Regions from separate parts of the Homo sapiens genome. Here region 2 is linked to region 1. A link means that fine-mapping ties the variant in region 1 to the expression of a gene that starts in the linked region. Tissue or cell type: tibial nerve. Region 1 holds a variant in brackets; the other region holds the start of a gene. All regions are shown on one strand. Distances are between the middles of the regions.

What was found. PIP is the estimated chance that this variant, and not a neighbour inherited with it, causes the effect.
Region 2: ADAM10 starts here. The variant in region 1 is fine-mapped to the expression of ADAM10 in tibial nerve (GTEx, PIP above 0.99).

Annotation. Positions count from the first base shown.
Region 1 is chr15:58,540,156-58,542,839 of GRCh38, forward strand. LIPC (lipase C, hepatic type) reads left to right here. Exons shown (of 9, transcript NM_000236.3): 3 at 1,630-1,812; 4 at 2,379-2,496. Among named protein-coding and RNA genes, the nearest start is that of LIPC-AS1, 43 kb to the left of the region's middle. The variant T/C (reference allele first, on the strand shown) is at 1,388.
Region 2 is chr15:58,748,260-58,750,943 of GRCh38, forward strand. It overlaps ADAM10 (ADAM metallopeptidase domain 10), which reads right to left and starts at 1,448. Exons shown (of 16, transcript NM_001110.4): 1 at 1,221-1,448. The coding sequence starts at 1,275. RefSeq lists enhancers at 581-1,216, 668-797, 1,888-2,067 and silencers at 908-1,197, 1,528-1,817.

The DNA of each region.
Region 1 (2,684 bases):
GAATGAGTCTTGTTTATAAATGCAACATGAGGACCACAGGAGCCTCTTACCAGGATGCTTTTACCAAAATGCACTCTTCATTATCAAAATTCTGTCCAACCTAGTATATGTCTCCTCCTCCTATTACTGCTAATATTAATAACAACAACAACTGCAGTAACGAACATTTGTTGAGTCCTTACTATGTTCCAGACACTGCTCTAAGCGCTTTAGATCTATTAACGTATTTCTCCTTCATAACAATCCTGGAAGGAGAGCATTATTAACCCCATTTTCCAGGTGAGAAAACTGAAGCACAGAGAAAAATAACTTGCCCAAGGTTACTCAGCTAGAAACTAGGAGAGCCTAGATTTGAACCCAAGATGCTCCATGCACATAGAAGGCACTTGGTAAATATCTAGTAAAGGAATGCATCTTACCCTGGAATGGCATGACAGGCCCTCAGGGGAGCTCTCCAGCTTCACCCGCTATTGTCAAGCCTTCACCTCCTATTGTCTAGCCTTCACCTCACCAACTTTCCTCCTCTCCCCTGACATACCACACTGCCCTTTCATGATTCTGTGACTCTGCACGCACTGTTCCTTCTGCCTGGGATGCCCTAGACCTCACCACTACCACATTCACCTGCCCACCTGTATTCTTTTTGTTTCTTTGTTTTGTTTTGTTGCGATAGGGTCTCACTCTATCGCCCAGGCTGGAGGGCAGTGTGATCTCAGCTCACTGCAGACTCGACCTCCTAGGCTCAAGCCATCCTCCCACCTCAGACTCTGGAGTAGCTGGGGCTAGAGGCATGCACCATCACACCTGGCTAACTTTTGTATTTTTTGTGGAGATGGGGTTTCACCATGTTCCCCAGGCTGGTCTTAAACTCCTAGGCTCAAGCAATCCCCCTGCCTTGGCCTCCCAAAGTGCTAGGAGTACAAGCATGAGCCACCGCGCCCAGCCCCCACCCATATTCGTCTTACTGGACTCCTATTGATCCTTTAAGGCCCAGCACAAGTGTCTTTGCTCTGTAAATCCATTAGGAGTGCCCTGCAAATTGGTTCTCAAACAAGGCACACACACAGAACAATTCTCTGTAAACATTTTTTACCTCCTACTATGTCAGGCTCACAGTGCCCATCCCGCTAAGTCCAGCATAACGCAGTCTGCAGGGCAGAGCCAGTGCTATGGGTTTAGGGGTGAGGTGGGGCAGCTGCACGCAGAAGGAGGCGTACAAATGGCCCTAAGGGACAGGTCAGCTTCCAGGACCTGATTTACACATATTTCTCCACTGTTTTAAGGTTTAGAAAGTCCCTAAGAGGAAAAACATTAAGATAATTGTTCTCGGGAGGGGGCGGGGGGGAACGTTTGGAAAAATCTGGAGACATTTTTGGTTTTCAAAACC[T/C]GGGGCAGTGGGTGGGTGTTGCTGGCATCTAGTTGGTGAAGGCCAGGAATGCTGCTAAACATCGTACAATGCCCAAGACAGCCCCCACAACAAGGAATTCTCTGGCCCAAAATGTCAACTGTGCATGGCTGAGAAACGTCATAGCAAGCCCTTCCTCCAGCATTATCCAGGAGCTGGAGAAGGAAGAAGGGTGAGCGGGGAGAAAGGAAACTAGTGCGACCCTCCCTCTGTCCCCTCCTCAGGTGGACGGCGTGCTAGAAAACTGGATCTGGCAGATGGTGGCCGCGCTGAAGTCTCAGCCGGCCCAGCCAGTGAACGTGGGGCTGGTGGACTGGATCACCCTGGCCCACGACCACTACACCATCGCCGTCCGCAACACCCGCCTTGTGGGCAAGGAGGTCGCGGCTCTTCTCCGGTGGCTGGAGGTACCGACCTGCCCCATCCTTCCTTCACCTCCCTTCCCTCCTTTCCCTTCCTCTGAGAGTGAATGAATTAAGCTGGTCTCCAACAGCAGCCCAGGCAGGAGAAGCACTAATGCTCAGCTCACAGGAATGAGAAGGCACAGGACTGACACCAGACCCCAGGGCTCTCTCAGACGCCTCCCTTGAACCCCTGTTTCACAGAACCACCTTCTCCCCTCTCCTCATCCACTATTCCTCTTATGCTCACCCCCTTAGACATGCTAAGGGATACAAACACACCCTGTAAGCTATCAAGCCCCCACACAAATGAGTGGGATCACTTCTGTAGGGCATTAGTGTCCAGGGGAAGACAGGCAGGCAGGAGGCTGCAGCTACAAGGCGAGGTCACAGGTACCTGAGTCCCAGGAGAGTCAGCCAGTTGAGAGATTAGTTTCAGTTTGGAGTGTGAATAAGGCACCTCATTTCTGAGCAGGCACGAAGAACAGGGTGGGCGCCACAACACACTGGACCGCAAAAGGCTTTCATCCAGGCAGCTCTTCTCCTGCCCCCATCCCGCTGCTGTCTTCCAGGAATCTGTGCAACTCTCTCGAAGCCATGTTCACCTAATTGGGTACAGCCTGGGTGCACACGTGTCAGGATTTGCCGGCAGTTCCATCGGTGGAACGCACAAGATTGGGAGAATCACAGGTAACCATGCCTAATAACTCACACACTGATCTCCACTCCATAGGGGCATCCAACAAGGACCTGCTTTTCCAACAGGCTCATCATTAAAACACCCCAACACTTATTGTGAGGGATCAGCGCTCATGAGAGGACTTGTGACATTCTTTCAAACATGACCAATGTCATGGATTGCTGTTCCAGAGAATTCA
Region 2 (2,684 bases), 210 kb after region 1:
TCATAAGTCAAAGTGGCAAAGAAAAAAACAGAAACAATACATTACATGAAATAGATATTTTCTAAATTATCAAAGGCTACAGACACTCATCCAAAGCATTCCTCAAATTTTTTCAATCGTTGCTTTTAGGCACACCTTGAGGTTTTTAAGTTTACTCTGGGGCAAGTCAAAAAGCTTACCTAAAATAAAGCACTTTAAGCAAGAATAAAATGATGCAGCTGGTCCTAGAACACACCGGAAATAAAAATCGTTGTCTTCAAAACCCGAAACAAGAAATGACATGCTTTTAGCAAATTTGACTTTCATGTGCAGGGGGGAGGGGGCACTGTTTTGACAATCCACTAACTACACTGTACATCTACTCCACCTGAAAGTTTAACGAAACTCTTCAAGTTGGGTCACCCAGGGACCGAACTTCTACTCTAAGAGACCCAATCCAGCCTACAAATCAAAGAACATCCCCAAATGGTTTACCCTTCTCCCGACCAAACCCTTTCCCCTGGGCGACAGAATGTTTTCAAGAACACCAACACACCCTCCTGTGATCTCTCTCCAAACACAGGACACAGGAAGAACCGAGGCCACTAGTCTCAGATAAGCGGGTGATGACTGCTGCCACTCCACGGGCGGCCCCTCTGCAGAATGGGGTCGGTCAGGACCGGCGCGCCGGGTAAAGAACAATACACGAGCCCAGCTGCAAACAACACAACTTCCCACGAGTCTGCGCGGCGGGTCTCGGCGGCGGAGAGGACTTCGGAATCCGCCACCGGGCAGGGGCTGGGGGAGGAATGGTGAGCAGGATGAGCGCTGAACGAGGACGGCGAGACCGCCAGCCTCGCTGCGGCTGCCTGCACCGGCGCCCGCCGAGCAGACTGGAGGGATGCAGCCACCAGCCTGGGTTCCACCGCTCTCACCAGGCGACGCGGATGCCCCGACTTCGCTTCTCTGGGAGGCGACCCCCGCCTCCCGGGGCCGCCAGGGCGGTGGGGGGCGGGGAAGGCCTCGCCGGAGGCTTGGGAGCCTCCTCGGCCCGCCACCGAAGGGAAAGCGGTCGGGGCGCGGGGGACAATAGGGAGCGGGGAGCGCGGCCCGCCAGAGTGGCGCCGCTGGCCGGCTGGGCTGACTGACGCGCACGCCGCGAGGCGCGACTGGGCTCCGCTCGGCCCGGCCGCCGCTCCGCCGTGGTCGCGGCGCCCCCGGCGCTCGCAGTCGTGCCTCACCTCCCATCCCCGCCGCCCAGGAGAGGAGCAGAATTAACACTCTCAGCAACACCATCTTCCGCTGCCGCTGCCGCCGCCGCCGCCTCCTCACGGGTTAACAGCAGCACATCGATCCGGAGGGAGAAGCTGAAGGGGCTTGGTCCGGAGCCTCCACGGGAAGCCGGGACCTCCCCTGGCAGGAGAAACGGCGAAGCACCTCCCTCTCGCTCCACTTCAGGGGCCGGCAACGCTCCTAGCTCCTCCAAAACAGGGACCTCCCTCCCCCTCGTTCGTTTCCTTCCTCCTTTCCCCGCTTTCCTTCCCTTGCTCGTTCCCTCTTCTCTCCCCCCCTCCTTCGAAACTCAGACCTCCGCCTCCTTCCTCACCACGTGACGCGCGGGCACCCAACTGGCACGCGGAGCCGCGCCCCTACCTCCCGCCCCTACCCGTCCCCCAGGCGCTTCAGGGGCGCGCGCATGCGCGCGGGGGACGGTTCCCGTGCTGCTAGGCCTGCCGCCGCTTCCTGTCCGCCGGCGGAGAGCTGGGATTGGGCTTGGGAGGCGGGGTTTGTCCTGGTCCCGCCCCGGGGCGGGAGCGCTCCTACGCGGAGATAGTGCTCCGCTACGTGTTAGAGCTGCTGAGGACCTTCCCTTGGGCTAAAATGGTCCGTGGAAGATGTAAGCAGGGCTGCTTTCGACTTCTTAACGTCACAAGTAACAGAGGTTTTTTTTCTTCTTTTTCTGCCTCTCTTGGTGCACCACAGCTACCAAGTAAACAAAAAGTCCCAACAAGCAGTAATTATAGCGGCAGCTGCCCCAGTGATGCGAACATAAATGCAAAGACCTTCAAGCAGCAGGAAAAAAAGACACCATGTCCGAGATGTAATTTTCCGAGCTCTTTACAAATTTATGTCACAGACTAAGGCTTTAGCCTTTGCAAAAGCATGCAACCTGAACCAGACTGTCTTGAATCTCCAGTCCAGAAAATGTCCTCTTTTCTCTCTGTCACATCTTTGAAGCGAATCCACGCACATCTTCTCCCCAACTTCTTAAAGCTTGTGTTTGTTTTCTCGTAACTCATTTTGATTCTTTAAACTTGGATGTCATGAACTAGAACTTTTTATGGCCATTTAATTAGATATTCTTCATCTATTTGGTATCGTGCTTGAGTAGGCCGAATTAGGGAGAGTGTGTGTGTGCGTGTGTGTGTGTGTGTATGTGTAAATTGTTTTGTTTTGCTTTCTAAAGACAAGGTCTCCGCTGTCTCGCCAGGCTGAAGTGCAGTGGTGTGATCATAGCTCACTGTAACCTCCAACTCAAGCCGAATTAGGGAGAGTGTGTGTGTGTGTGTGTGTGTGTAAATTGTTTTGTTTTGCTTTCTAAAGACAAGGTATCCGCTGTCTCGCCAGGCTGAAGTGCAGTGGTGTGATCATAGCTCACTGTAACCTCCAACTCAAGCGATCCTCCCGCCTCGGCCTCCCACAAG